Linked DNA regions of Homo sapiens: regions 2 and 3 are each linked to region 1. Evidence: fine-mapped expression QTL. A gene starts in region 1. Each other region holds a variant in brackets. All regions are shown on one strand. Distances are from middle to middle.

Evidence for each region. PIP is the estimated chance that this variant, and not a neighbour inherited with it, causes the effect.
Region 2: its variant is the best candidate, but not a certain one, in a credible set for the expression of KIF3B in putamen (GTEx, PIP 0.68).
Region 3: its variant is the best candidate, but not a certain one, in a credible set for the expression of KIF3B in whole blood (INTERVAL, PIP 0.55).

What each region holds. Positions count from the first base shown.
Region 1 is chr20:32,273,110-32,283,327 of GRCh38, reverse strand. KIF3B (kinesin family member 3B) reads right to left here and starts at 5,677. Exons shown (of 9, transcript NM_004798.4): 1 at 5,563-5,677. LOC124904885 (a long non-coding RNA gene) reads left to right here and starts at 5,785. Exons shown (of 2, transcript XR_007067561.1): 1 at 5,785-6,024; 2 at 7,686-7,909. RefSeq lists silencers at 5,302-5,481, 5,502-5,661 and enhancers at 5,315-5,825, 5,872-5,921.
Region 2 is chr20:32,491,954-32,502,171 of GRCh38, reverse strand. All of the region lies in intron 4 of NOL4L (nucleolar protein 4 like), which reads left to right. Among named protein-coding and RNA genes, the nearest start is that of NOL4L-AS1, 64 kb to the left of the region's middle. RefSeq lists an enhancer at 4,711-5,227. The variant A/C (reference allele first, on the strand shown) is at 4,483.
Region 3 is chr20:32,386,674-32,396,891 of GRCh38, reverse strand. The region is part of intron 4 of ASXL1 (ASXL transcriptional regulator 1); the gene reads right to left. Among named protein-coding and RNA genes, the nearest start is that of ASXL1, 33 kb to the right of the region's middle. The variant A/G (reference allele first, on the strand shown) is at 5,028.

The DNA of each region.
Region 1 (10,218 bases):
TTCACCATGTTGGTCAGGCTGGTCTCAAACTCCTGACCTCGTGATCTGCACACCTCAGCCTCCCAAAGTGCTGGGATTACAGGCATAAGCCACCACACCCGTCCCCAAAACATTTTTTTTTAAATTAGCCAGGCACGACAGTACATGCCTGCGGTCCCAGCCACTCAAGAGACTGAGGTAGAAGGATCACTTGAGCCCAGGAGTTCAAGGCTGTGGGGGAGCCATGATCACACCACTGCATTCCAACCTGGGTGACAGAGGGAGTCCCTGTCTCCAAAATGAATAAATTTATTAAATTTAATTAAATAAACAAGTGGCAGTGATAAGACTATTAGTTTTACTATTCACAATGTTGAATGTACAACCCTGTAATGCCCAGATTTACAAGTACAGTTACTGGAATACATAACAATGAAGCTCGAATTCCCTTGCTCAGAAGAGATTCAAGAATCCTCTAGGAATTCTGGTAGAGTACAATAGGTTTTCCAGGGATTCTGAAGTCAAAAGCTCTGAAACTTCAGAACTGTCATTTGGTGACCAGGAAAGAACCACTTTGGCAGGGAGAATGTGGCCATTTGGCACACCAAGTGAACTTCACTAGTGATTCCGCTCCCTCTTCCAGAGCTGGCCAGGCTCCCTCAGCCAAGATCCCGAGTCAGCACTGCAATGCCAACAGCACAAGACAGAAAGACAGATGGGTACTGCCCTGGCAAAGCCCACACCTGCCGCTCCACAGGCTGGCAAAAAGCCAGACTGTAGAAAAGCAGGACTTTTTTTTTTGGTTCACAGTAAGAACGTCAAGCTTCAATCAGTTGCACCTGGCTAGCTTCTGCCAGCATAATCTGGGATTTCCTCCCCACAGACTATAAAGTATGATGCTTATACCTTGTGCCTCTCCTCTACAGGGTTCAAAATAAACTATGAATAATTCTTCCTCATAGGGCCCCTTACCAAAAAGTCCTTTCATCATTTCAGAGGCAGATGGCATCTCTAACATCTACTTAATTGCTCAGGCCAAAAACCCAGGAGTCATCCTTATTCTCTCACCCTCATCCCGCCATCCTGCTGGTTCTACCTCCGAAACACATCCCCAATCCGTCCTCTTACCATCTCCACTGCCACCAACCTAGAAAGCCACTATCTTCTCTCACCTAACCTCTTAACTAGCCTCCTGGCTGCCACTCCTATGCCCTCTAAAATTCACTGCCACAAAGAGGCCAGAGTGATTTTTTTAAAAAACAAAAATAGATCATGCCACGTCCCTTCTCCAGAACCTCCAATGATTTCCACAGCTTTTAGAACAAAATCCCAACTCATTACTCTAGCAGACAAGGTCCTGTATGATCTGAGCGCTCCCTACCACTTCCATCCCCTACATCCACCCACCTCCCCACTCTGCCTTTGACTCACCTGTCCCTGCCATTGTAAGCCTTCTTGCAGTTTCTGGAACTTACCAAGCTTGTTGCCACCTCACAGCCTTTACCCTTGCTCTTCCTTCTGACATGTCTTCAAATGGCTGGCCCGTCCCTGGGAGCAAATCTCAGCAAAAACGTCACCATCCTAGCAAGGCCTTTTCTTTTTCTTTTTGTTTGTTGGGTTTTTTTTCTTTTTGAGATGGAGTCTCGCTCTGTTGCCCAGGCTGGAGTGCAATGGCGCAACCTCGGCTTACTGCAGCCTCTGCTTCCCAGGTTCAAGCAATTCTTGTGCCTCAGCCTCCTGAATAGCTGGGACTACAGGCACGTGCCACCACACCCAGCTAAGTTTTGTATTTTTAATAGAGATGGGATTTCACCCCAGCACTTATTCCTCATCCAAATTCCCTTGTTCATTTACTGCTGTATTTTTCTGTTTGCTGCCAGTAGAATATAAGCTGCATGAGAGCAAGGGACTCTGTACCTTTCTACCATGATATCTCCAGGCTAAAACAGAACTGACACATTCTAGGTGCTCAGGAAATACTGAATAAATACAATCCGGGCAGGATAGTGGTAAGTACACTGAATTTGAAGACAGAAGACTGGATTTCAACGTGAAATGGGCCACTCAATAGCATCATGGCTTCTTGGCTTCCATTCAGATTCCTCGACTATAAAACAGAGATCCTAATCTGCACCTTACCTTCCTTGAAGGGACACAGATAAGATTAAATGAGTAAAAGCATGTGTAAGCAAGTGTAGGCATTTTTGTAAGCCATTAGGCACCTTATTGTTATTGTCAAGTATTGCTACTCTCTGTTACATAAGACGGGGTCTTTCTCAGGGACTTGCGAATTAATGGATGAAAAGGCTTAGGAAGCAATCTGAGGTTTCTAATCCAGGCACCTAACAGAAGTCTAGGGACACAACAAAACAGATTAGAATCAGTGGCTTCACTCTGCAGCCAAGGCAAACATAAGATATGAATTCATTTAAAGATGTCAAATGCAGTAATTTGCAAATTAAGCTCTGAGTTCCTCGAAGGATATGGAGATGGGATTGACCTCCACATCCTCCATGTGCCTAGCATAAGGGGATTTAGCAAATATTTACTGAATTGGATGTTGAGCTACTAAACCTAACGTCCTACCATCAGCTTTCATCTTTCTTTCTTTTTTTTTTTTTTTTTTTTTTTTTTGAGACGGAGTCTTGCTCTGTCGCCCAGGCTGGAGTGCAGTGGCGCAATCTTGGCTCACTGCAAGTTCCACCTCCCCGGTTCACGCCATTCTCCTGCCTCAGCCTCCCGAGTAGCTGGGACTACAGGCGCCCGCCACCATGCCCAGCTAATTTTTTTTTTCTTTTAGTAGAGATGGGGTTTCACTGTGCTAGCCAGGATGGTCTCGATCTCCTGACCTCGTGATCCACCCGTCTTGGCCTCCCAAAGTGCTGGGATTACAGCCGTGAGCCACCATGCCTGGACAGCTTTACCTTTCTTTGCAACCCATTGTGGCACATGATTACAGGTTCCTGGGGCCAACTGTATAAAAATATCAACATTTATATAATGCCATGATGGCTACTGTTTCATGCTTGCAATGACATTATGGTTGACGGACCTGGTATTATCACATACTTTAATTTATTCTTTCACCAACCATACACGGAAAATACAGCACAAGCACCACGTTAAACCCAAATAACGATAGCTAATGTTTACCAAATATGCTGGGCACTTCACATATATTAAGTTCAAATAAATCCTCAGAACAGCCATACATGATAATAAGGCCACAGGTAATAAGGCCTATTACTATCCCCATTTTACAGATGAGGAAACTATACCACCAAGGGGTTCAAAATGAACTATGAATAATTCTTCCTCACAGAGCCCCTTACCAAAAAGTCCTCTCATCATTTCAGAGGTACTGAGCATCATTTCAGAGGTAAAGTAGCACCTCTTTGCTCAGTAGCACACAGCTTGGAAGTGGCAGAGCCAAGATTTTAGTCCAGGTAGTCTGATTGCAAGCTTTTAACCACAACTGCATAACAGCACTGAAAGGGCCTTCAGTATAATCTAGCCTAGTCCCCTCATTTTAATGAGGAGGGAATGAGGGACAGAGAAGCCCTCTTTTAAAGATTCCAGCTCTCAGGCTGGGCACAGTGGCTCATGCCTGTAATCCCAGTCCTTTGGGAGGCCAAGGCAGGCGATCACCTGAGGTCGGGAGTTTGAGACCAGCCTGACCAACATGGAGAAACCCCATCTCTACTAAAAATACAAAATTAGCCGGGCATGGTGGCACATGCCTGTAATCCCAGCTACTTGGGAGGCTGAGGCAGGAGAACTGCTTGAACCAGGGAGGCGGAGGTTGCAGTGAGCTGAGATGGCACCATTGCACTCCAGCCTGGGCAACAACAGCAAAACTCCGTCTCAAAAAAAAAAAAAAAGATTCCAACTATTTTCTGAGATCCTCACTTTGGGTGGTATCTATTTAAATAAAGCTTTACCTGAGATCTTGTTTCCTTGCCTTTTAACTTCTAGCCAGTTAAAAGTAACAAAAGAATACCCCTGTGGCCTTATAATAGCAACTGTTGCAAAATCAGAGGCAACAGTGAATGGGGGATAAAATACAGGATTTACCTAGAAACACGTCCACTTCCATCACTTAATAGATACAAGATTCTTAGGCAATGACTGGGTGTGGTGGCTCACGCATGTAATCCTAGCACTTTGGGAGGCCGAGGCAGGTATATCACTTGAGGCCAGGAGTTCGAGACCAGCCAGGCCAACATGGTGAAACCTTGTCTCTACTAAAACTACAAAAATTAGTGGACGAGGTGGTGAACATCTGTAGTCCCAGCTACTCGGGAGGCTGAGGCAGGAGAATCGCTTGAACACACGAGGCGGAGGTTGCAGTGAGCTGAGATCGCGCCACTGCACTCCAGCCTGGGCAACAGACTAAGACTCTGTCTCAAAAAAAAAAAAAAAAAAAAGGATTCTTAAGCAGGTCCTTCCCTTTACTTTTCTGAACCTCAGTTTCCTCATCGGCAAAATGAGGATGACATCACCAGGCACCTGGCAAAGTCTACATAAAGATTAAATGAAATAATATGCCTGGTAAAGTGCTTCTTAATCATATGCTTGTAAATAGTTATTACTGCTTTAAGCACTTCCCAAAGGACACAAAGATGCCTTTTTTCTTCTGGAAGGGTCAACGAAGCCCAGGTAGAAAATGAGACCATGACCCCAGCTATCTACAAGGGGTTGACCTCAAAGAGTTTCCCAGGACTACTTGTAGAAGTACCTCCCTTGCTCTGAGCAGAATGGAGAAGTAAAACCGGGGTTGGGGGTTGGCATTGCAGTAGGACTACCCATATGAGCTGGCACTCTACACACCTACACCTTACCTGTCCCAAAGTCATCTCCTCCTGGAAGTCTTGCCCTCCTACCCTGGACGCCTCATAATAGCTGGTTGAGCACTTACTATGTGCCAAGCTACTTGACATACCCAGTCTCACTGATTTCCACAGTAGTCTATTACCTCATTTCACAGATAAGGAAAAGAAGACTCAGAGAAATTAACTTGCCCAGGGCCACACAGTTACTAAGTGGAAATGCCACGTCTCTAACTCGCTCAGACTTCAAACTGCCCTCTTGGTCTCCCATCTAGGGTGCCCTAAGAATTCTCCCTCTCCCCATTTAGGGCACTTTCACATACACTTCTCATTATCTTTACCACTCTGAGCAGCAATGTTAGGACCCCATTGAATAAACAGGTCAGCTAAGGCCAGGGAGGTGAAAAGACTTGCCCAAGGTCACACAGCAAGCCCAGCACAGCGCCGAGGTTCGGACCCCAGGCTCTCGCTTCCCCGCCCTCCTCCCAAACTGGGGCCCTGACCACCGCCTCAGGGCCCCCAGGTGGGCTGCGACCCAAGGTGGCCGTGTCTGGGGGTCGGGCCGCGACCCTGCCAGGGGAAGGAGGGGCAAGGCCGTCCGGACTACCAAAGGATGCCTAGGAGGCAGGGCAGAGGATGCTCCGGCTCGCGGGACAGCAAAGCCAGGCAGAGGCGCGGGCGCAGGTCGCAGGGAAAACCCCAGGCGGCCACAGGATTAGCCCTGCTCGGTGGGCGCCCGGCCCCTCCGACTCACCTGAGGCCCGAGCCGAAAGCGGGCGGCGGCGGCGGCGGCGGCGGCGGCGGCGGCGGCGGGGGCGGCGAACCCCTGGCTCAGCCATTCCCCGCTGCCCCGGATGGGGAGAGACAGTGGCCGCTCACTTCCTTAGCAACCTGGCTCGGCGACCCACTTCCTTAGCAACCGGTGTCAATTTCAATAACTTTATTGGCACACGAGCAGAGGACAGGGAAAGCCGGCTGGAGGGGTCTGGGCGGGGCTCAGGTCGGTGCTGGTGTTTAGCGGGGGCCCAACACACCTCGGTCTCCTCACCCACCTAAGCGGGGAGAGTGGCGCACAACGTGGCCTGACTCCATCCTCTGGTATCTCGTGCCTCAGTTTCCCATCTGTAAATGGAACACACGCGATTTCAGCCGCCGTTCAACCTTTCTAAAAGCTTTCACATCCATTATCTGACTGGTGTCTCAAACTGCTACTGAGGTAACTCCCATTTAGGGTGCCCCCAGTGACTCAATACGAACACCTATAGGCACCCTTGTTGTAGCTTTCCTGTCCTTCACCCAATCCAGTCAGTCACAACCGCCCCAGGCAAGGCCAGGCCACGCTCATCTCTAGCCTGCCTGAAATATCTGGTCTGTTTCCATTCTTTTGTCCAGCTCTGTCCGAACAATCCATTTTCCATAAGGTGGCCAGAGTAATTATTTAAAACAGATCATGCGGCCAGGTGCGGTGGCTCCCGCTGTAATCCCAGCACTTTGGGAGGCTGAGGCAGGTGAATCACCTGAGGTCAGGAGTTCGAGACCAGCTTGGCCAACATGGCGAAACCCCGTCTCTAATAAAAATACAAAAAATTAGCCGGGCGTGGTGGCGCATGCCTGTAGTCCCAGCTACTCGGGAGGCTGAGGCAGGAGAATCGCTTGAACCCGGGAGGCAGGGGTTGCAGTGAGAGAGATGGCACCACTGCACTCCAGCCTGGGCGACAACAGCGAAACTCCGTCTCAGATATAAAGATTAAAATAAATAAATAAATAAATAAATAAATAAAACAGATCATGCCACTTTCTGATTAATACTCGATTTAATGGAGTCTCATTGCTCTTAGAATCAAATATGAAGTCCTTATTACTTCCTGCAAAATTCGTTAAAACTCTATTCCAACCACACTGGCCTAGAAGGGCAGGTTCCAACCCCCATGGAACTTACACCTGCTGTTCCCCACTAAATAGAAACTGCATAAGAGCAGTCTTTTATTTGTTCACTCTTGTATCCACCATGCCTGGAACCAAGCTTAGTCAATAGTAGTTGCTGAACAAATATGTTTTGCTCCTTGAATAAATGAATACCTGAGATGGTCTTCTTCATCTGCCTACAACTACTTTTTGCCTGTTGTGGCAGATATTGCTACTTCCTCTCAAAAACGTTATTTCTTCCTGCTCCTGGACACACAACTAGACAGTATTTCCCAGCCTTCCTTACAGTTCAGACCAAGTTCTGGCCAATTAAATGTGATGTGTGCTATTCTCAGGCCTGGCCCATTAAAACTCCCACATAATTTGATTTACACTTTCTCTACAGTGAAGAAGTTTATTTTTAAATAAAATAATAAAGGAAATACCAAAAGAGACTGCACCCAGCCTCTTTTGGTATTTCCTGAAGCTAATAATTGCCTCATTTTTTCCCCCCTTTCATTAGCTTTCTTTGCAGATATTGTTAATTTTTTCCTATGTGGTTAATAAATTAGACAAAATAATCAGCAGTGATTTTTCCAGATGTGTAACATAACAATTCGGCTAGGCATGGTGGCTCATGCCCATAATCCCAGCACCTTGGGAGGCTGAGGCAGGCAGATCACCCTGAGGTCAGGAGTTCAAGACCAGCCTGGCCAACATGGAGAAACCACGTCTCTACTAAAAATACAAAAATCAGCCAGGAGTGGTGGCAGGCACCTGTAATCCCCACTACTTTGGAGGCTGAGGCAGGAGAATTGCTTGAACCTAGGAGGTGGAGGTTGCAGTGACCCGAAATAACCCTATTGCACTCTAGCTTGGGTGACAAGAGCAAAACTCCATCTCACAAAAACAACAACAACTTAAAAAAAAAAAAAAAGTTCATGAGTTCTCTTTTGTTTTTTTCTCCTGAAGGCTTCAGCTCTGATCTGGACCAGTGCTCTCCAGGCCTACTGCACAGCTGTCATACTGAACTTTCCTATATCCTACACCTGGTTGGGATTCCCTGTGCCCTGGACCTTGTGTCTCAAACTTCTAGATTGTGGATTTACTCTGTCATCTCTGTGCAGCACATCTTTCTGTAGATTCCTGAGAAAGGTTGCAAAGAAGCAAATATATTTAGTCCTTGTATGTCTAAATATGCATTTATACTGTTTTCACACTTGATTAATAGTTTAGCAGGGTATAGAAATCTAGGCTGAAGGCCAGGCGCCATGTCTTATGCCTGTAATCCCAGCACTTTGGGAGGTCGAGGCAGGCAGATCACCTGAGGTCAAGTGTTTGAGACCAGCCTGGCCAACATGCTGAAACCTTGTCTCTACTAAAAATACAAAAAAAACATTAGCTGGGCATGGTGGCACATGCCTGTAGTCCCAGCTACTCGGGGAGGCTGAGGCAGGATAATCACTTGAACCCAGGAGGCAGAGGTTGCAGTAAGCCAAGATTGCACCACTGCACTCCAGCCTGAGCGACAGAGGGAGCCTCCATTTCAAAAAAAAAAAAAAAAAAGAAATCTAGGCTGAAAATTATTTCTCTCAGAATTTTTAAAACATTGCATTATTGTTTCTAGTATCCAGATTTAAGACATCTAATGCCATTCTTAATCCTGTTGCTTTATATGTGTCTTGTTCTTTTTTTATTTTTAATCTTTGAAAACTTTTAGGCTATCATCTTTATCCATAATGTTGTATTTGATGATGACTCCCCTCAGTGAGGCTTTTCCTCACTTGTGTTAGCTGGGCCTTTTCAATCTGGAGACTTATATCCCTCTAATCTAGGAAATTTTCTTGTATTATTTTTTCGATAATTTTCTCCCCTCCTATTTTTTTTTCCCCTGAAACAGTGTTGTGCTATGTTGCACAGGCTGGAATGCAGTGGCATGATCATGGCTCACTGCAGCTTCAAGTGATCCTGCCACCTCAGCCTCCCGAGTAGCTAGGACTACAGGTGCATACCACCATGCCTGAGTAATTTTTCTATTTTTTGTAGAAATGGGGTCTCACTGTGTTGCCCAGCTGGTCTCAAACTCCTGGGCTCAAGCAATCCCCCTGCCTCGGCCTCCCAAACTGTTGGGACTACAGGAATGAGACACCAGACTTGGCTCTCCCCTCCATTTTTTTCTCTTTCTGGAATTTCTCTTAGTCAGAAGTTATACTTTCCAAACTGAGTTTCTAATTTTCTCTGTTTTTCTCTTATTGTCCCTCTTTTTGGCTCTTTTGTTCTACTCTGTGGGAGATTTCCATCCATATCTTTATTTTTAGTGTCTATCTCTTCTATGGAAGAATCTGGGCTCACCTTTTAGTCATCAAATCAATATTCCCTGCAGACATTTGGGTCATAACTTCCTCCCCCTGTTAAGTCAGTTACTACTTCCCCTTCTGTCCCTGTTTTCTAAAAACTTGCTGAAATCCCTGGGCCACTAATGTCTCCTTTTCATTCCTATTCATGTTCTGGGTTAATACATTTTTTATTCCTTATTGCCATATAGATGGGGTTCGAGGGAGAAAAAAATAAATACGCATCATCAATCCACTATGTTTAACTGGATGTGTTTACTGCTATTTAACAAAAATGTATTGTGTTCTTCAAAACAGCTAGAAGACCTGAAATGTACCCAACACATAGAAATGATAAATACTTGGGTGATAGATAACCTAAATACCCTGACTTTATCATTACACATTCTATGCATGTAACAAAATTGCACATGTACCCCATAAATATGTACAAAAACTATTTAAAAATTTTTTTAAACAGGTAGGTAAAAGGTATGAACAGATAGTTCAGAGAAAAGGAATAGAAAATATTGCTTTTAAACATAGGAAAAGGAAAGATACTTATGCTTACTCATATTAAAGAAATGAAAATTAAAACAACTTTTTTTTTTTTTGAGACAGAATATTGCTCTGTTGCCCAGGCTGGAGTGCTGTGGCGCAATCTCAGCTCACTGCAACCTCTACCTCCCGGGTTTAAGTGATTCTCATGCCTCAGCCTCCTGAGTAGCTGGGATTACAGACATGTGCCACCATGCCTGGCTCATTTTTGTATTTTTCAGTAGAGGCAGGGTTTCGCCATGTTGACCAGGCTGGTCTCGAATTCCTGACCTCAAGTGATCCACCTGCCTCAGCCTCCCAAAGTGCTGGGATTGCAGGCATGACCCACTCACTGCACCTGGCCGAAAAAAGAACTTTGGTAAGGCATTGTTGATGACGGTCTGGTCTTGATTCTGTCCTTAGCAAGCTGAATAAAGCTGTGTATTGAAGTGGGATTAGTAGTAGTAGCTGTACAGTTGTAGGGTGACTAACTTGTTCTAGTTTGCACAGGTCTGTCCCTGTTTTAGCACCAAAAGTTCCATGTCCCAAGAAACTCCTTAGTCCAGGCAAACTAGGATGAGTGGTCACCCTAGTATGATGGGGTAACTTCTATATTACCAAGTATGTTTCCACTC
Region 2 (10,218 bases), 220 kb before region 1:
TGGAATAACCTGCTTATACTATAAGTTCTTGATTTTTCAATTGGGGCTTTTGTTGTTGTTAATTTCTTGCTGTAGGAAATAAGTATTTGCACTCTTACACCCTCTCATAAATACACTTATTATTTCTCCTTCCTCCATCCTGCAACATATCTATACCTCTCTATTTAGATAAATTGCTATTCATTGTTTATATTATTATGACTGTGTGCATATTACTCATAGCTGACCCAATTAACATATGCTATGATTACATTTCCTTACATTTCCTTTCTTCGGATTCCCCAGAGTTAGTCATTGCCTCCTTTTCCCCATCCGTAGCTCTCTCTCTTTTGATATTGCCTATGCTGTGTGTGTTGTCATTTTTATTTTTATGTACTCAGATGTATCAATTTTTTCTTCAAATCGCTTCTGCATTTGAGTCTTAAAAAGGCTAACTCCACTCCATCCCCCATGTTTTCTTTTAGTATTTTTATGTTTTCATTTTTTTTTTGATAGACTATTTTTGAGAACAGTTTTAACTTTACAGAAAAATTGGGAAGATAGTACAGAGTATCCACATTGCCCACTCCTCGACACACAGTTTCCCGTATTATCAATGTCTTATATTAAGGTGATACATTTGTTACCACTAATGAACCACACTGATACATTATTGTAAGTAAAGTCTACAGTTTATTTAGATTCCTTTAGCTTTTACCTAATTTCCTTTTCTGTTCCAAGATTTCATCCAGGATACAACATTTAATTTTCATTGTAACATTTAATTCCATTTAATTGTCATGTCCCTTTAGTCTTCTTTGGGCTTTGACAGTTTCTCAGACTTTCCTTGTTTTTGATAACCTTGACAGTTTCGAAGAGTACTAGTTGTGTATTTTGTAGGATTTAGAAATTTGACATTTTTCTCTATATAAAACCGGGGTTATGGGTTATTAGGAGGAAGACCACAGACATGGAGTGTCATTTTCATCACATCCTGTTAAGGGTCCATAATATCAACATGATTTAGGACTGTTGCCATTGGCCTTGATCACACCTGGTTGAGATATTGGTTGTCAGGTTTCTCTCCTGTCAAGTGACTTTTCCCTCTTTCCACACTGTGCACTTGGGAAGGAAGGCACCGTGTGCAGCCCACACCTGAAGAGTGGGGAGTCATGTTCTGCCTTTTTTAGGGTGAATTATCAACGTAAATTATTTAGATTGCTTATGCATAGGAGATTTGTTTCTCCTCCCCCACTTATTAATTTATTCAGCCATTTATAGAAGTCGAGACTCATAGCTGTTTATTTTATGCTTTGATGATCATTCAATACTTCTTCATTTTGTTGTACAAATTGTTCTAGCTTTGGCCATTGGAGCTTTTTCAGTTGTTTCCTGTGCTCTTTTGCCATACCTCATTGGTGTTTGGGGTTTTTGTTTGTTCGTTTCTTGTTTTTTAGTGCTTCTTTGCTTTCTGGCACTGTAAGACTCCAGGCTCATCTTGCATATTTCCTGCCCCAATCCTGGAATCAGTGATTTCTCCAAGGAGCTCTGATTCCTTTTATTGGAAAACCATATTAAAAACCAAAATATCGGATCGAGACCATCCTGGCTAACACGATGAAACCATGTCTCTAGTAAAAAAAAAAAAAAAAAAGAAAGAAATACAAAAAAATTAGCTGGGCGTGGTGGCAGGCGCCTGTACTCCCAGCTACTTGGGAGGCTGAGGCAGAAGAATGGCATGAACCCGGGAGGCGGAGCTTGCAATGAGCCGAGATTGTGCCACTGCACTCCAGCCTGGGCAAGAAAGCAAGACTCCGTCTCAAAAAAAAAAAAAAAAAAATCTGGCTGGGCATGGTGGCTTACACCCATTATCCCAACACTTTGGGAGGCCAAGGCAGAAGGGTCTCTTGAGTTCAGGAGTTCAAGACCAGCCTGGGCAAACCTCATCTCTATATATTTTGTATAAAACAAAACAAAAAAACAAGATCTGGGCACTATGTGTGCCCATTGGTACTGAAGTATCCTTTCTTGCAGGCTCTTCCAGCTGACAGAGCAAAAAGCATACATGTTTTTATTTTCATTTTTTATATTTAATCTTTGATCCATTTGGAGCTTATGCTGACGTATTCTGAGATACAGATTCCGCTTAACCCTTTTGTCTCAGCATCATTTGTTAAATACTCCATTTTCCCCCACTGATTTGAGATGACACCTTTAAAACTTACTAAGTTTCCATCCAAAACAGAATCTACTTCTGTTTGGTCCACTGGGCTCCTTGACTATTCATGTAGCAGCTACCAAACTGTTTTAAGTGTGAAAACTTTATCATATGTTTTAATATCTAGTAGGAATTGTTCCTCTTTTGTTGGCTTTCTTTTTAAAAGTTTTGCTGGCTTGAAAAAAGGCATTACTTTGAAAAAAATAATTGTTCCTTTTTTTTTTTTTTTTTTTTTTGAGACAAGGTCTCCCTCTGTTGCCCAGGCTAGAGTGCAGTCGCAAAATCTTGGCTCACTACAACCTCCGCTGCCCAGGTTCAAGCAATTCTCCTGCCTCAGCTGACTGAGTAGCTGGGACTACAGATGCCTGCCACCATGCCCGGCTAATTTTTGCATTTTTAGTAGAGATGGGGTTTCACCATGTTGGCCAAGCTGGTCTGAAACTCCTGGCCTCAAGTGATCTGCCTGCCTCAGCCTCCCAAAGTGCTGGGATTACAGGCATGAGCCACCACACCCAGCCAAAAATTGTTTCTTTAATGCCTAAAAATGTTTGTATCCGCTTTTTGGTGGAGGAAAAATACTGCAGCAGCACCACTGATCTGACCACATGAGCATTATGTGAAGACACTTTATCCCAGGCCTCTTTGTTCACTGACAAACAGAGGTGGACTGAGAACCAGGAGCACCATGAGCCCAGTGTCAGGATCGGGGGGCTCTAAACATGGACAGCACAGCATTCCCCATCCTCCTAAAATGGTATCATGCAAAATAGGGCATTTATTTAAAAAAAAATTTTTTTTGGCCAGGAGCAGTGGCTCACGCCTGTAATCCCAGCACTTTGGGAGGCCAAGGTGGGCAGATCACAAGGCCAGGAGTTTGAGACCAGCCTGACCAACATGGTGAAGCCCCGTCTCTACTAAAAATACAAAAATTAGCTGGCGTGGTGGCAGGAGCCTGTAATCCCAGGTACTCAGGAGGTTGAGGCAGGAGAATCACTTGAACCTGGGAAGCAGAGGTTGCAGTGAGCTGAGATTGCACCACTGCACTCCAGCCTAGGCAACAGAGCAAGACCAAGACTCTGCCTCAAAAACAAACAAACACAAAAATTTTTTAAGTAGAAACAGTGCTTCACTTTGTTGCCCAGGCTGATCTTGAACTTCTGGGCCTCCCAAAGAAAATAGTGCATTTCTTTTTTTTTTTTTTTTTTTTTATTGAGACAGGGTCTCACTCCCGTTGCCCAGGGTAGAGTGCAGTGGTGCAATCACAGCTCAATGCAGCCTCGACTTCCCAGGCTCTAGTGATCCTCCCACCTCAGCCTCCCGAGTAGCTGGAACTACAGGCACACACCACCACACCTGGCTAATTTTTTGCACTTTTTATAGAGATGGGGCTTCACGTGTTGCCCAGGCTGGTCTTGAACTCCTGGGCTCAAGCGATCCTCCCACTTTGGCCTCCTAAAGTGCTGGAATGACAGGCATGAGCCACCATGCCCTGTGAAAATAGGGCATTTCTAAACTTGAGAGGGAATGATTTATCAGAAAGCTTTTTTTTTTTTTAAGAGAACAGAGAGAGGCGTGAAAAGCTCATTGTCAAACATCTTTTGTTATGGGACATTATTTTTGCAATCAGTATATGTTCTTGAACATCCTGGGGTGCTTTCTAGAAACTTACTACAATTTCCAAATTCTCACAGAAAATGAGCATTTCCTCTGTTTTGTGAGGGCAACCTGAGCTGGGAGAGGTCTGTGTCTTTTCTTTCCTCTCACTTCCCTGAAGCTGTGTGGGAAAGTGGAAAACAGCCACCACCCTGTCTGGAGAGCCAGTGTCTGGTGGGGTTGGCAGATACCCCGAACCTGAACAGCTCATTGTCCCCAGCAGCTCCTTGAGGCTCGAGCCCCTTCCGGGCTGCAGACCTCCACCCCTACAAATGCGAGAATGCCAAGGTGGCCTTTCAACTTTATTATCTGGGGGAAAAAATGCAGGAAGCACTCGTAATTTACTGGTGCAAGCAGGAGAGCTGCCTGGTGCCATAAGCAGCAATACTGCATGCAGGGCTGGCCTCGGGACGCTTTGTGTGTGTCAAGGGAAAAGCTTGCACAGGTCAGGAGCTGCTACCTGGGCGTCCATGAATGAAGGGGGGAAGTGGCTCTGTCCTGTCAGAGCTCTGGCAGTAAAACACCCCTGCCAGGCAGCCCAGGGAGCTGACTCCGGTCTGTTTCTAAGGACAAGAGAGACCTAACAGGAAAGGAGACGTCTTTCCTGGGCTGGGCCAGGAAGGAGCAGCTCA[A/C]AACATCCAGATGGTCCCTGTACTGATGGCTGCCCTTGTGACCGCCACAGCCTAACCAAGACCCAGAAGGGATTCGTGATCTTGTGGCTAAGTCCCGTTCCGTTTTGCAACTAAACTCCTCACTCCAGCTTTTGGGTGCCTCTTTCACCCAGAACTAGTGGGATATTTTGGGCAGGGTGCTTTTCTGCAGCCGTCCCTGGTTTTCCTTGCTTTTTATTTTGAATGCGGGACCCCTGATGGCTTTGTCAAGCCTTCTACTTAAGGCACTGAAACTCAGGCAGCTCAGCCCCCTGGCAGCTGAGCATTTAGTGGTTGTGACTTTTACACAGGTTCTTGACCCACCCTGACTCTTGTCAGCCTGATGGGTCCTTTTCATGTGGGGCCCAGATAGGCCCTGTCACCCCCAGCAAAGAGCAGCTCCAGGAGACCTGACTCCATGGGGCGGGTGGGTGGGCCAGGGCTTTGTAACCAGACCTGGAGGGTGCAGGAGGGTTTCAGACGCTTCAGCAGCTGATGTCTGGAGATCAATTAGAGATAATGGCTTTGGGTGGACTGGAAGAAGCATGGCCAAGCTTTTTCCTGGTCATGATTGTGTTTACCTCATTATCGGGCTTTTTTTTTTTTTTTTTTTTTGAGGGTAGGAGGGCACAGTATTGCTTTGTGAATTTGTGCTGTCTGCTTTGTTTTGCTCGGGGTGACTGGGTGTGGATCCCGGCAGGCGGGTAGCTCCCCGACCCCTATTCAGACTGAGAGGCACACAGCACAGCTGCTGCTCACGGCCGACCAGACCCTTGTCCTCCCTGCAACACAGCATTATGTAGTTTTAAAGAAATTTCCTAGGCCAGGTGTGGTGGTTCATGCCTGTAATCCCAGCACTTTTTGGGAGGCTGAGGCGGGTGGATCACCTGAGGTCAGTTCGAGACCAGCCCGGCCAACATGATGAAACCCTGTCTCTACTAAAAATACAAAAAATTAGCCAGCTGTGGTGGCAGGCACCTGTAGTTCCAGCTACTCGGGAGGCTGAGGCAGAAGAATCACTTGAACCTGGGAGGCAGAGGTTGCAGTGAGCTGAGATCATGCCACTGTACTCCAGCTTGGGCAACAAGAGTGAAACTCTCTCAAAAAAAAAAAAGAAAGAAAGAAATTTCTTCCTTCCTTCACTCAAAAATCATTTCCGAGGTTCCTACTACATGCTGGAGGTCATTCCAAGCACGGAAGATACCACAGTGAATGAGACAGATAAGGTACCCATCCCTAGGAGCTCACAGGCCTGGAGATGATAAACAAGGCAATATAAAAAAATATGCAAAAGGAGGAAATTTGGGGTAGATAATTAAAATAGAGTAAGATGACAGACTGTGCCTCAGGGCAAGAAGGCCTCTCTGAAGAGGCAGCATCCGAGCCAAGGCCTGAATGGTGAGAAGTGGCCAGCCCTGCAGAGATGAAGTGGGAGGGCTTTCCAGGCACAGGAGACAGCACATGCAAAGACCCTGGGGTAGGAACAGCAGTGGGGCTCAGATAGAGGAGTAAGGGGGAGCTATGCCTGGGAGCCGTCTTCAAAGGCAGCTCTCCCAGGGCCTGCCAGCCGGGTGCACATGTGTTGTGATGTGAAGCCTAGTGGTGATCTTTCTCTGCCAGAGGGAAGCAGGGCAGGGACCTGGGCCTGTCTCAGGTCGAAAGTGGAGATGAGCACCTGAGAGGGAGTCCAGCGACTCTGGTTCTAGGTGTGCCTCTGCCCCACGAGTCATCTAACTTCTTTTATTGGGGTGCAGTGATATGATCACAGCTCACTGCAGCCTTGACCTCCTGAGCTCAAGCAATTCTCCCACCTCAGCCTCCTGAGTAGCTGGGACCACAGGTGCTCAACACCGCGCCCAGCTAATGTTTGTATTTTTTGTAGGGATGGGGTCTCGCCATGTTGCCCAGGCTGGTCTTGAACTCCTGGGCTTAAGCATTCCCCCACCTCAGCCTCCCCAAAGTGCTGGGACGTGAGCCACTGCGCCCCAGCCATCTAACTTCTTCATGCTGCAGCTTCCCTGTTACTAGATCAGCAGGTTTGGGTCAGACATCTGTGGCTTTCAAATTTTACATTTTGATGGAGGAACCCCTTTCTTCAAGGGACTGTCTTCTGGGGAGGAAGTTGAGTGGGTCAGGGGTCAGCAGCAGACAGGCATGTTGCTGGCAATGCTGGGCACGGAGCCCAGAGCCCGCCTACCTACCCCTTTCGTCCCCAGCAGCCCATCTGCCTCTCCTGCACCACCTCAGGAATAGGCCCGGGCAGCCCTGAGCTTTGGCTTGCGGTGCCGAAGATAGTCAAGGAGAGGGGCTCGATCCAGCACAACCACAAGCAGCCTCCTCGACAGATATGAGTCACAGAGCCCATGCCCTGCCAGCCCCATGGTCATTCTAAGGCTCTGGCATTTAGAATGGCTCTAAATACCTCAAGAGATAAGATAGAAACAGAAGATGTTCTTTAACTGGGATACTCCTGTGGCTGAGGAAGTGCCCAGGCACACTTGTGCTGCAGCCGTGACAGTTTTCCCTCCTTCAGAGTCCACAAGTGAGGGAACTAAATGCTTGTCTGCTCCCCAGGCACCACAGTACGCACAGCAGGTGCCTGGACGTAGCGTAGCACCCCTGTGTCCTCTTCAAAGAGTCAAGAGGCTCCTGTGTCCTCTTGAAAGAGAAAAGGCCACATGGGAGTGGGGGATCCTTGCCATCTAGTCCACCCGCGGACAGGAGCCATGTGAATAAGCCAGGAATGCTTTTGACTACAGGCCCCCAAACCCAGTTGACTATAGCAAAACATGAAGTTATTTTACTCCTAAAACAAGAAGAATGGAGGAGCCGCCGCTGGTGCCATTTGCAATGTTGGGTTGGTGTCTCTGTGATGTTATTGAGGCTTTTCCTCATGGTTGCAAGTTGCCTGCTATTGCTCCAACCTTGTCCACATTCGAGGCATTGTGTTGATGTCTCATTGCTGCAAAAGGGTCACGTGGTTCCCAGTTGTAAGGGAGGCTGGGAAAGAAAGAATTTCATGTTTCTACCCTCTGTGGTTGAAAAAGATAAGGGAGAATGTTGATTCAGGGCATAATATCAAGAAAACTGGTTCACAGTCTCTGCCACAGCCTGGGCACCATCAACTAAACTTTGACAATCACTTTGGGTGTTAAGATGCCGAAGGCTTGGGCAGAGAAAAAGAATGGAAAAGAAAGGAAACGGGGAAAGTGGGGAGGAAGAAGAGAGGAGAGGGAGGTAGGCAGGGGAGCAGGAACAGCAATTGTTGGGGGCCTTCTGTGTGCTGGGTACCCCCAGACACAGAACTCAGTTCCTCAGCACACAGGGAAACTGAGGCTCGGCTTTAGAGAGCTTAAGTAATTTGTTTGTGTGTGTGTGTGTGTTGTGTGTTTTTTTTTTTTTTTTTTTTTTTTTTTTTCCCGAGATTATCTCACTCTGTGGCCCAGGCTGGAGTGCAGTGGCATGATCTCAGCTCACTGCAAGCTCCACCTCCTGGGTTCAAATGATTCTCCTGTCTCAGCCTCCCAAGTAGCTAGGATTACAGGCATGTGCCACCACACCCAGCTAATTTTTGTATTTTTAGTAGAGACCAGGTTTCACCATGTTGGTCAGACTGGTCTTGAACTCCTGACCTCAGGTGATCCACCTGCCTTGGCCTCCCAAAGTGCTGGGATTATAGGCATGAGCCACTGCGCCTAGCCAGTAATTTGTCTGAAGTCACAGAATTAGTAAGAAAGAGAGCCCTAGTCTCTCCAATCTTAATGCTGTTATTTCTCAAGGGAAGGGGTGGGGAAAGAGAAAGGAAAAAGAAAGCAACAGTCAGGGTAGGGACAAGCTGAGGCCGCAGCAGCACCAGCACCATCGGCTCCACATGGACAGACCCAGGTGTGCTTATCTCACCACTGCAGTCCCTGCACCTGGACCGGGCCTTGGAGCATAGTAGGGGCTCAATAAATGCGTGTGGACTGATGACTGAGTTATTACTTAGTTTTCGTAGTACCATCACTATCCATAACTATGGTTCGGGCGGTGCTCTGTGCCCAGCACCAGTCCAGGCCTCTTCAGCTATCGCTGCATTTAGGCCTCACTGCAACCTTCAAAAACAAGTCCCTGCTGTTGTTTCCTCATTTTAGAGATGAGGAAACCAAGGCTTGGAGAGTCAAGTCACCTGCCTGAGGTCACACCGAGCAAGGGCCTGAGTGCAAACAGAGCGTGTCCGCAGCTGCCCACTCCCCTCCACACCTGGACATGACCCCACACACTAGATTCAGCCCCAGAAAGGTCCCCATGCAGCATCCCGGGCCCCAGAGCCTTGGGCCATCATCCACACCGGAGCTGTGGGCTCTGTCATGAAGGGACTGCAGGCCTAGGCAGAAGGTGCTGCCTGCCTCTTTCTCTTGGTAACCTGCCCGTTTCCCTGCATGGCTTCCTTGGACCGAGTGAACGTAAGTTAGTCTCACACCCCCACAGCCTGTGGAGGGTCCTTACCTCTCCTCACCTGCCGGAGAGCCAGCTAGAGTTTCATCCCTTCAGGCTTCCAAGGCCAGCCTCCTTCCAAGGCTTGTATGGAGAAGCCCTGGGGTCCATCCCAAGGCAGGGCCTCACAGCAGTCCTAGCCCATTCCCAGGTCTTGGCCCAAGGGAAATCTCTGGCTGCATCTGACTCGCACTGGTGGATTCCTCCTGCTCTGCTGGAGGTCGGTGAAGCGCAGCACCACGTGGCCTGGCTCAGTGGTCTCACCTTAGCAGGGCCCACCACACACCCTGGAGACCCACACATCTTGGTCCAGCACAGCCAGCAGCTTCTAGCTCCATGATTGTGGACGTGTCACCTGCTCTCTGAGTGCCAGTTTCTCCACTCTTGGGTGACTGGGTGAGTCACTTAATCTTCTCCCAGAAGCCCCTAGTCTTCATGTGCACAATGGCAAATGAATATCAACCTTGTTATTTGGTGGATTAAATAAGATAACACATACACACTGCCCAGCACAGGTGCCTGGTGTCCAGTGGGTTGCAGTAATCGACTACAGCGAGCTCCAGGCTGCTTAGCCATGGAAGCTGACCTGGCTTGCTGTTTCCCCTTTTGAAACTTCTACTGAAGCATAATGCACATTCAGAAAAGAGCACGCATCACTCAGTTTCACAGCTCAGCCAAGTTCACAAACTGACCCCACCTCCTGTGACCCATGTCCAGATCAAGAAACAAAACATCAGCACCACCCTAAAGACCCTTTGTGCTCCCTCTAGTCACTGCCCCTGGGCCAGGGTGACCACTGACCTGACTTCTAGGAGCATACATTGATTTTGCCTGTTCTAGAACTTTATAGAAATGGAATTGTACAGCATGTGCTCGTTTGCTCACAAGCATAAGTGTGTGAGCATCATCTGTGTTATGGCATGCGTCAGTAGTTTGTTTCTTTTTATGGCTGAGTAATATTTCATGGTATGGGGGGCCCACAATGTATCCATCCTTCATTGGTGGACAGTTGGGAGCTGTTGTGAATAGTGCTGCTATGACCAGCCTACCAGTCTGCTATGTGTTCTTTCTTCTTTCTGTCTTTCGAGACAGGGTCATGCTCTGTGGCCCAGGCTAGAATGCAGTGGCACAATCACAGCTCACTGCAGCCTTGATCTCCCAGGCTCAAGCAATCCTCCCACCTCAGCCTCCACAGTAGCTGGGACTACGGGTGCATGCCATCATGCACAGCTAAATTCTTTT
Region 3 (10,218 bases), 110 kb before region 1:
ATACCACTGTTCAGAGTTATTTCAAAATGAACACATAAAAAATGCTAACTTAGTAAGCAGTATGTGACCTCATGTATAAACAAATATGTATACTGAGAGAGAATGAGAGTTTGAGCTCAAAAAAATTTTTTATATTACTATTAGGGGAATAATTTTTTAAGTGAATCCTACTGCTGTAGGCACTGAAAAGCAATACAGTGACAATATCAGAATTGTGCTTTAGAATTATTCTGACAGTAGTCTGTACACTGCATTAGAGACAGAAAAAGTCTGGGAACCAGAGTGCCAATTAAGAAGCTAATGCAACAGTTAGGGAAGAGGTAATTACTCCCTAACTAAGAATGTTACGAATATAAGGAAAAAGATTGTTACAGATTAAATAAGAATAAATAAAGAGGGAAATAAGAAAACATGTATATCTGTATACCCTTACAAAAATAAACACAGAAAGGATACGCCCCACCTAACAAAGCTAAAAAGCAAGCCTCAAAAGAATTAGTTTCCAGCTAACTCATCTGCACTCCAGAACAAATCTCAAAAATACCAACATGAATACAAAAATATCCACAACCCAAAGTGAAATTCACAATGTCTTTCATCTAAACAGAATTTATTAGGATTGCAAAGAACTGGGAAATCTGACCCATAATGACAAGAAAAATAGAATACATAAAAACAGACCCAAAGATGATATAGAGACAGAATCAGAAGAGATTATGAAAAGTTATTATATTTCACATGTTCAACATTGAGCACGTTAAGCAGAGAAATATAAGATGTTTTTTAAGAAACAAACCAGGTGTGGTCGCTCATTCCTGTAATCCCAGCACTCTAGGAGGCTGAGGCAGGTGGATCACCTGAAGTCAGGGGTTTGAGACCAGCCTGGCAAACATGGTGAAGCTCTGTCTCTACTAAAAATACAAAAACTAGCCAGACATGGTGATGCATGCCTGTAATCACAGCTACTTGGGAGGCTGAGGCAGGATAATCGCTTGAACCTGGGAAGCGGAGGTTGCAGCGAGCCAAGATCATGCCACTGCACTTCAGCCTGGGTGACAGAATGAGACTCCGTCTCAAAAAAAAGAAAAAAACTGAATTTTTAAGGATAAAAGGTATAATTCTGGATAAGAGTAACAGATTTAACATGGGAAAGATAAAGACTAGTGAAATGAAGATCAGTAGAAACTACCCAAAACAAAGAGAATCAAATGACTAAAAAACATAACAGTGCATCAGTGAGTTGTATGACTACTTCAAGCAGCCAAATATACATGTAATTACAGACTCCAGATGCGGTGGGGAAGTACAAAAGAAAAATATTTCAAGAAATAGTAGCTGAATACGTAAATTTCATCCATGAAGCTCAAGAGAATTCAAACACAAGAAATATGACGCAAACTACAACAAAGTATATAATAAACACATTGCTGAAAAAGCAGTGATAAAAAGAAAATCTTAAAAATTAACCAAAAAAGGCAAAAAAGATAAATTTGCTCGCTGAAGAACAAAGATTAAAATAACAACAGATTTTACAGGAGAAATAATGCAAGCTAGAGACAGTGGAGCAACATCTTTAAAGTACACAATGAAAAAAACCTGTCAACCTAGAATTCTGTATCAAAGGAATATATCTTTCTAAAAACAAGAGGAAGTACTTTTTCAAACACACCAAAGCTTAAAGATATCACCAGCAGACCTACACTACAAGAAACACATTAAAGGAAGTCCTCTGGCAGAAAGAAAATCTGAACTGACGAGAAAAAACTGAAGAAAATCTGGCAGATGAGAATCTGGAACCGCTCATAGGCAATAAAGAACACCAGAAATGGAAAACATATAAAGTAAAAGACATTTTTTCTTACTTTTAAAATCTTTTTAGGCCAGGCATGGTGGCTCATGCCTGTAATCCCAGCACTTTGGGAGGCCAAGACAGGCGGATCACTGGAGCTCAGGAGTTCGAGACCTGCTGGGCCAACGTGGCAAAACCCCATCTCTACTAATAATACAAAAATCAGCCAGGCATGATGGGGCGCACCTGTAATCCCAGCTACTCAGGAGGCTGAGGCATAAGAATCACTTGAACCCAGGAGGCAGAGGCTGCAGTAAGCCAAGATTGCACCACTGCACTGTAGCCTGGGCAACCGAGTGAGACTCCGTCTCAAAAAAAAAAAAATTGTTTTAAAAAAATTGACTACTTAAATGAAAAATAATAATGTATTGTGGAGTTTACAACATATGTAAAAGTGAAGTGTATGACAAACATAGCACAAAGTCTGAAGGGAAAATGAAGTGTACTGCTATAAGGTTCTTGTAATATAGGTGAAGTGGTATAATATTAAAGACTGAGTTTCACAAGCTGAACTCAATAAACACTAAAGCAGCCACTAAAATAACAAAGTACTAATGAGCCAAGAAAGGACTTAAAAATGAACCACTAAAAAATCCTCAATCCAGGCCAGGCATGGCGTAGCTCACTCCTGTAATGCCAGCACTTTGGGAGGCCAAGGGCAGGGATCACTTGAGGTCAGGAATTCGAGACCTGCTTGGCCAACATGGCAAAAGCCCATCTCTACTAAAAATACAAAAATTAGGCCAGGCACGGTGGCTCACGCCTGTAATCCCAGCACTTTGGGAGGCCAAGGCGGGCAGATCACAAGGTCAGGAATTTGAGACCAGCCTGGCCAATATAGTGAAACCCTGTCTCTACTAAAAATACAAAACATTAGCTGGGTGTGGTGATGGGCGCCTGTAATACCAGCTACTTGGGAGGCTGAGGCAGGAGTATCGCTTGAACCCAGGAGGCGGAGATTGCAGTGAGCCGAGATCGCGCCACTGCACTCCAGCCCAGGTGACAGTGCGAGACTCTGTCTCAAACCAAAAAAAAAAAAAAAAAAATAGCCAGGTGTGGTGGCACGCACCTGTAATCCCAGCTACTTGGGAGGCTGAGACAGGAAAACTGCTTGAACCCAGGAGGCAAAGGTTACAGTGAGTTGAGATTGCACCACTGCACTCCAGCCTAGACGACAGAGTGACAGTCCATCTTAAAAAAACAAAAACGAAAAAAACACCACATCAGACAAATAGAAAAGATGGTTGTTTAAACTCTATAAAAATCAGTAAACATCCAGCCGCAGTGGCTCACACCTGTAATCCCAGCACTTTGGGAGGCTGAGGTGGGCGGATCACAAAGTCAGCAGTTTGAGACCAGCCTGGCCAATATGGTGAAACCCCATCTCTACTAAAAATACAAAAATTAGCCGGGTGTGGTGTCAGGTGCCTGCAGTCCCAGCTACTTGGGAGGCTGAGGCAAGAGAATGACTTGAACCCGGGAAACGGAGGTTGGAGTGAGCTGAGATCGTGCCACTGCACTGCAGCCTGGGCGACAGGGCGAGACTCCATCTCAAAAAAAAATCAGTAATCACATTAAACATAAATAGTCTACAAACTCCAATTAAAAGGCAAACACTATCAAACTGGATAAAAGCAAGATCCCAAACACATGATGCCTGGGAAAAAAAACCACTTTAAACATAAAGACACAGGTGATAAGTTTTTTTAAAATATAAAAATATATGCCAAACACTAATCAAATGAAAAGCACGAGTAGCTATATTATGAGACAAAGTAAGTTCTGTCATTTCAAAATGACAGAGACCAATTCATCAAGATGACGACAATCATAAATGCTTATGTACCTTATAAGTAAATTTCAAACCAAAAACAAACAGAATTGAGATTTTAACACCTCTCTCTATAATTGATAGAACAGAAAATCGGTAAGAATACAGAAGACTTAAACATTATCAATCAACAAGCAAAACAGAATTGAGATTTTAACACCCTCTGTCTATAACTGATAGAATAGGAAATCGGTAAGAATACAGAAGACTTGAACATTATCAATCAACAAGCCAATCAACATTAATAGAATGCTCTACCTAACAACAGTAGAATACACATTCTTTTCAAGTGCCCGTGGAACCTTTATCAAGACACCTTATTCTGATCCATAAAACAAGTCTCAATCAATTTAAAAGGATTCAAATCATATAAGGTATGTTCTCTTACCACAATGGAATTAAATCAAAAATCAGTAACAGTAAGATCTCTGGATTTTTATTCCCAAAATATAATATCACACTTCTAAATAATCAGTAAGTTAAAGAATAAATCAAAAGAAAAATTAGATATTTTAAGCTGAATGAAAATTAAAACATAGCATATCAAAATGTGTGTGTGCATTAAATGTCTATCTTAGAAAAGAGGAAAGATTTCAGGGCTGGGAGCAGTGGCTACCCGCCTCAGCCTCCCAGCACAGGCGTGATCTGCCCGCCTCGGCCTTCCAACACTTTGGGAGGCCGAGGCGGGCAGATCACGAGGTCAAGAGTTCAAGATCAGCCTGGCCAACATAGTGAAACCCCATCTCTACTAAAAATACAGAATTAGCTGGGCATGGTGGCAGGCACCTGTAATCTCAGCTACTCGGGAGACTGAGGCAGGAGAATTGCTTGAACCCAGGAGGCAGAGGCTGCGGTGAGCCAAGATTGCGCCACTGCACTCCAGAGTGGGCAACAAGAGCAAATCTCCATCTCGGAAAAAAAAAAAAAAAATCAGCTAGGCTTGGTGGCACACGCCTGTAATCCCAGCTTCTCGGGAGACTGCAGTGAGATGACTGCTTGAGCCCAGAAGTTAGAGGCTTCAGTGAGCCATGATCATGCCACTAGCACCCCAGCCTGGGTGGCACAGCAAGACCTTGGCTCTAAAAATAAATAAATAACAAATAGCTAGATGGTGGACTTAACCCAACCATATCAATAATTAAATACACATGGTCCAAGCATCCCAAGTAAAAGACACATTAGGAAAAACTAGACACACATTAGGTCCAAGCATCCCAAGTAAAAGAATTAGGGAAAAAAAAAAAATCAAGGTCCAACTACAAATATAATGAAACAGACAGTATAACACAAAAGGATGGAAAAAATATACCATGCAAAAACTAAGCACTGAAAAGAACTGGAGTGACT[A/G]TATCAATATCAAAGTAAATTTCAGAAAAAAGTATTGCCAGGAAGAGCAGAAATTTTACTAAAACACAAAAACCTTGGCTGGGCTTGGTGGCTCACACCTGCAATCCCAGCACTTTGGGAGGCCAAGGCAGGAGGACTGCTTGAGCTCAGAAGTTCAAGACCAGCCTGGGAAACATAGCCAGACCTTATCTCTACTAAAAATCAAAACTTAGCCAGGCATGGTGACACACACCTGTACTCTCAGCTACCTGGGAGGCTGAGGTGAGAGGATCGCTTGAGCCTGGAAGATCGAGGCTGCAGTGAGCTATAATATAATCTTGCCATTGCACTCCAGCCTGGGCAAGAGAGTAAAGCTCTGCCTCAAATACAACGAAAACAAAAACTTGAATTTAAGATGGTGAAGCCACTTTGGAAAACAGCTTAGCTATTTCTTTAAAAGTTAAACAGAAATTACCACCCAACCCAGCAATTACTCCAAGGTTTATCTACCCAAGAATAATGAAACTGTATGTCCACATAGAAACTTACACACAAATATTTATTCACAGCAGCATTACTCACAGCAGCCAAAAGGAGGAAGTAGTCCAAATGTCTATCAACTGAAGAATGAATACGCAAAATGTGGTACATCTATACAATGAGATACTATCCTGCAATATACAGAAATAAACTGCTAGCCAACTGTAATGGTTCACACCTGTAATCCCAGCACTTTGAGAGGCATAGGTGGGAGGATTCCTTGAGGCCAGGAGTTTGAAATCAGCCTGGGCAACAGAGTGAGATCCTGTCTCTACCAAGAAAAAAAAAAAATTAGCTGAACATGGTGGTGTGCGCCTGCAGTCCCAGCTACTCAGGAGGCTGAAGTGGGAGGATTGCTTGAGTTTAAGCCTGCAGTGAACTATGATCGTGCCGCTGCACTTCAGCCTGGGTGACAGAGCAAGACCTTGTCTCCAAAAAGAAAAAAAAGAAAAAAGAAATAAATTGCTAATACACATCACAAGACAAATAAATCTCAAATACTTCACACTAAGTAAAAGACGCCAGACTCAAAGTGTTATATAATGTAGGATTCAATTTATATGGCATTCTGGAAAAGACAGTACTGCAAGGACAGAGAACAAATCAGTGGTCACCAGGAGCTGGGGGTGAAAAAAGAAGCTGACTACAAAAGGATACAGGGAAAGTTTCTGGGATGATGAAACTGTTCTGGATCTTAATTATGGTGGTGGCAGGGCACACTGGCTCATTCCTGTAATCCTAGCACTTTGGGAGGCTGAGGCAGGAGGAGCACTTAAGGCCAGGAGTTTGAGGCTGCAGTGAGCTACGATCATGCCACTGCATTCCAGCCTGGGTGACAGTGAGACTGTCTCAAAAATATATTTTTTTAAATTAAAAAAGAATCATGGGTGGGGATTACATATCTGTATATAGATCTGTCAAAACTTACAAGACTATACACAAAAAAAGGTGAATTTCCTGTATTTTAAAATGGAAGTATGTTAGCACCAATAAAATATACAGCATACCCTGACTTATGATTTTTTGAGTTTACGATGGTATATGAAAGTGATATGCATTGAAGAGAAGCCATACTCTGACTACTCATACAACTATTGTTTTTCACTTTAGTATTCAATAAATTATATAAGATATTCAACACTTTATTACAAATAGGCTTTGTGTTTGATGATTTGCCCACTGTAAACTAATTTAAGTGTTCTAAGTGCATTTAAGGTAGGCTAAGTTAGGATTTACAGCAGGTTAGTCATATTAAATGCATTTTCAACTTAATATTTTCAACTTAAGGTGGGCTTACAGGGACACAAAAACATCATAAGTCAAGGACCATCTGTACTAGGATAATTGCATTCAAGCCATATATGGCATATATTTAAATAGCACTGTTAAAATACCAAATATAACTTTAAAACAAATTTGAACTAAAGAAATCAAACTCTCACAAAGCTGTATACTTGTACACTAAAAAGGGTGAATTTGGCTGGGCGTGGTGGCTCATACCTCTAATCCCAACACTTGGGGAGGCCAAGGTGGGTGGATCACCTGAGGTAAGGAGTTTGAGACCAGCCTGGCCAACATGGTGAAACCCTGTCTCTACAAAATTAGCCTGGCAGGCACCTGTAATCCCAACTACTTGTGAGGCTGAGGCAGGAGAATCGCTTGAACCCAGTAAGTAAAGGTTGCAGTGAGCCGAGATTGTGCCACTGCACTCCAGCCTGGACAACAGAGCGAGACTCTGTTTCAGAAAAAGAAAAAGGCGGGGCAGGGGGGCGGTGGTAAATTTTACTGTACGTAAATTATGCCATAAACTGAGAGGGAAAAAAAACAAAAACAAGATACTATTATACACTCACAATACTCAGTCCCATTCCCAGCAACATATACACCCCAGAGAAGTGAATGCACACATGCATCAGGAGACACATACACAAGCACTAAATGCAGCTGTTTGTTACAGCAAGAACCAGAAACAACCCAAATACATGCTAAGAACAGGTAAATCATATGGCACGTTGATAGCATAAGATGATACACAGCAGAAAATATGAAGTATTTCTATAAATGCACCAACATAGATCAAGCTCAGAAATGAGAGGCAAAAGCAGCAAATCAGAGAAAATACATCCACCAGTATGATTTCATTGACATAAAAATATATTTTAAAGCAGGAAAAATTATTATTTAGGACTTAAACTTCAGTAACACATGTGGGTTAAAAGCAAAAGAATCATTAATATGAAAAATCTGAATAGAGGTTTCTAAAGCAGTGAGGGAAAGGAAAATGCTCAGAGGCTCCAAAAGGGTGTATACTCTAGAGGGGTGGGGGAAAATAAATAAATAAAATAGAGTGTAAAAGATGTTTTGTTTGACGATGGTTGGATGTGGGGGCGTGCAATTTATTTTTAGCTATTATTCTTTAAAGGAACACAAACTCTGTATATACATATTTTAAAATAAATTATATATTTCATAACAAGGAAAGTAAAAACAATATATTCCCACAATAAAAACATACATGCCCAGGTCTTATAGGCATGATCTACCAAAAAGAATGAATAATCACTATCTTAAAGAGACTACTACTGAGAATCAAGAGAGGAAAAACAGCACAGCTTGTTTTGATAATAAAACTGGAAAAGGCCTGAAATTAGAATGTAACACTTGTAAATACAGATGCAAAAATTCTCAATAATTTATAACCTAAATCCAGCAATGTATATTTAAAAGGAAAATCATGTTGAAGTACCATTTATCCTAGGAATGCAAGGATGCTTGAGCACTGGAAAAAAAGAATCTATTAACATAACTCACTATATTACCAAATTAAAGGAAATAAAATACATCTCTTTACCCAAAGGAATAAAAAATTTGGCCAAGCATGGTGGCTGACGCCTGTAATCCCAACACTTTGGGAGGCTGAGGCGGGCAGATGACCTGAGGTCAGGAGTTCGAGACCAGCCTGGCCAACATGGTGAAACTCCATCTCTACTAAAAAATACAAAAATTAGCCAGGCATGGTGGTGCATGCCTGCAGCCCCAGCTACTCGGGAGGCTGAGGCAGGAGAATTGCTTAAGCCTGGAAGACAGAGGTTGCAGTGAGCCAAGATCAAGCCACCGCATTCCAGCTGGGGTGACAGAGCAAGACTCTGTCTCAAAATAAATAAATAAATAAATAAAATATATCTTCGGTGTTGAGGAAGGTGGCAAGAATGGAAGGAAGGAGACCAGTTAGGAAGCTACTAAAATAACCTAAGAGATGAAGGTGGCTTAAACCACTCTGGTGGCAGAGAGAGTGATAAAATGAGATATATTCTGAAGATAGAGCCAACAGGATTTATTCGTGATTACATGTGCCACAAGAGCAAAGGGACAGACTCCAAAATTGATGACTCCCAGGTTTCTGATTTAAGCAACTTAAAAAATGGAGTTCCCACTAATTTATACAGCCAACACAAGGGTGGAACAGGTTGGTTTTGCACATGTTAATTTTGAGATGCCATTAGATATCCGAATAGAGATACTGAGGAGGTAACTGAATATATGAGTCTGACGTTCAAAAGGAATATCCAGGATGGGGATATAACTTGGAAGTCATCAATGACAGAGAAACAAATGGAGAAGCAAAGAGAATAGTTAGCAAAGCAAAGGAAGATGAGATCTAAGCGTTGCAGAGGGAGATGCTGAAAAGAACCAAGCAGATTCATCCCCTGAACTGCAGACAGGCTAAGAGCTTAAACCAGACAAGGATGGAGTATGGAGTGGAAAACATGGGGATTATTTAAAGTGTGCATCAGGAGATAGACATCTCTACTTCAGAACCATGCATCGAAGTAAAAACCACTTCCCCACTTCTGTAAGAGACAAGTGAAGTCACAAAACCACAATGCACTGAATTCGCCAGTAGTATTTAAGAGCCTGACTCTCAAGCATCACACCTCAATCAAGGATCAGCAGGCATCTGAGTAAGGCTATGATGTGAAAGAAACAGGGCATGACAAATAGAAAAGCCTGGGCTGGATATTATATACATAATATTAAATTTTTTATGTATTTTATTTATATTTTGAGACAGGGTCTTGCTCTGTCTCAGTCTCGGCTCACTGAAACCTGTCTCCCAGTTCCAGTGATTCTCGTACCTCAGCCTCCTGAGTAACTGGGATTATGGGGGTGCACAACCATGCCCAGTTAATTTTTGTTTTTTTGTTTTTTTAGTAGAAGGGGTTTCACCATGTTGGCCAGGCTGGTTTTGAACTCCTGACCTCAAGTGTTCCTCCCACCTCAGCCTCACAAAGTGCATGAGCCACTGCACCTGGCTTAAATTTTTCATTTGCATTATGAAATGTTTCTAACATAAAGTTAAATACTGACAGTATCAGAACAAACAGCTAGTTACGCACCAGCTGGAAAAACTGTAAAATCATTTCCCAGACCTGAGACACATGAGTTGCTAGACCTAATAGCACAAAGGGCGAGAAAAGACCCACATCAAGGTACATAATCGTGGAAAAAAAGATCCTAAAAACTTTCGGGGAGAGGTAGCAAAAAAAAAAAAAAAAGAGAGAGAGAGGTCATACACAAAAGATCAGGAATCAATATGGCATTTGATTTCGATTTCAGAAGTAACAATGGGCCGGGCACGGTGGCTCTCATCTGTAATCCCAGCACTTTGGGA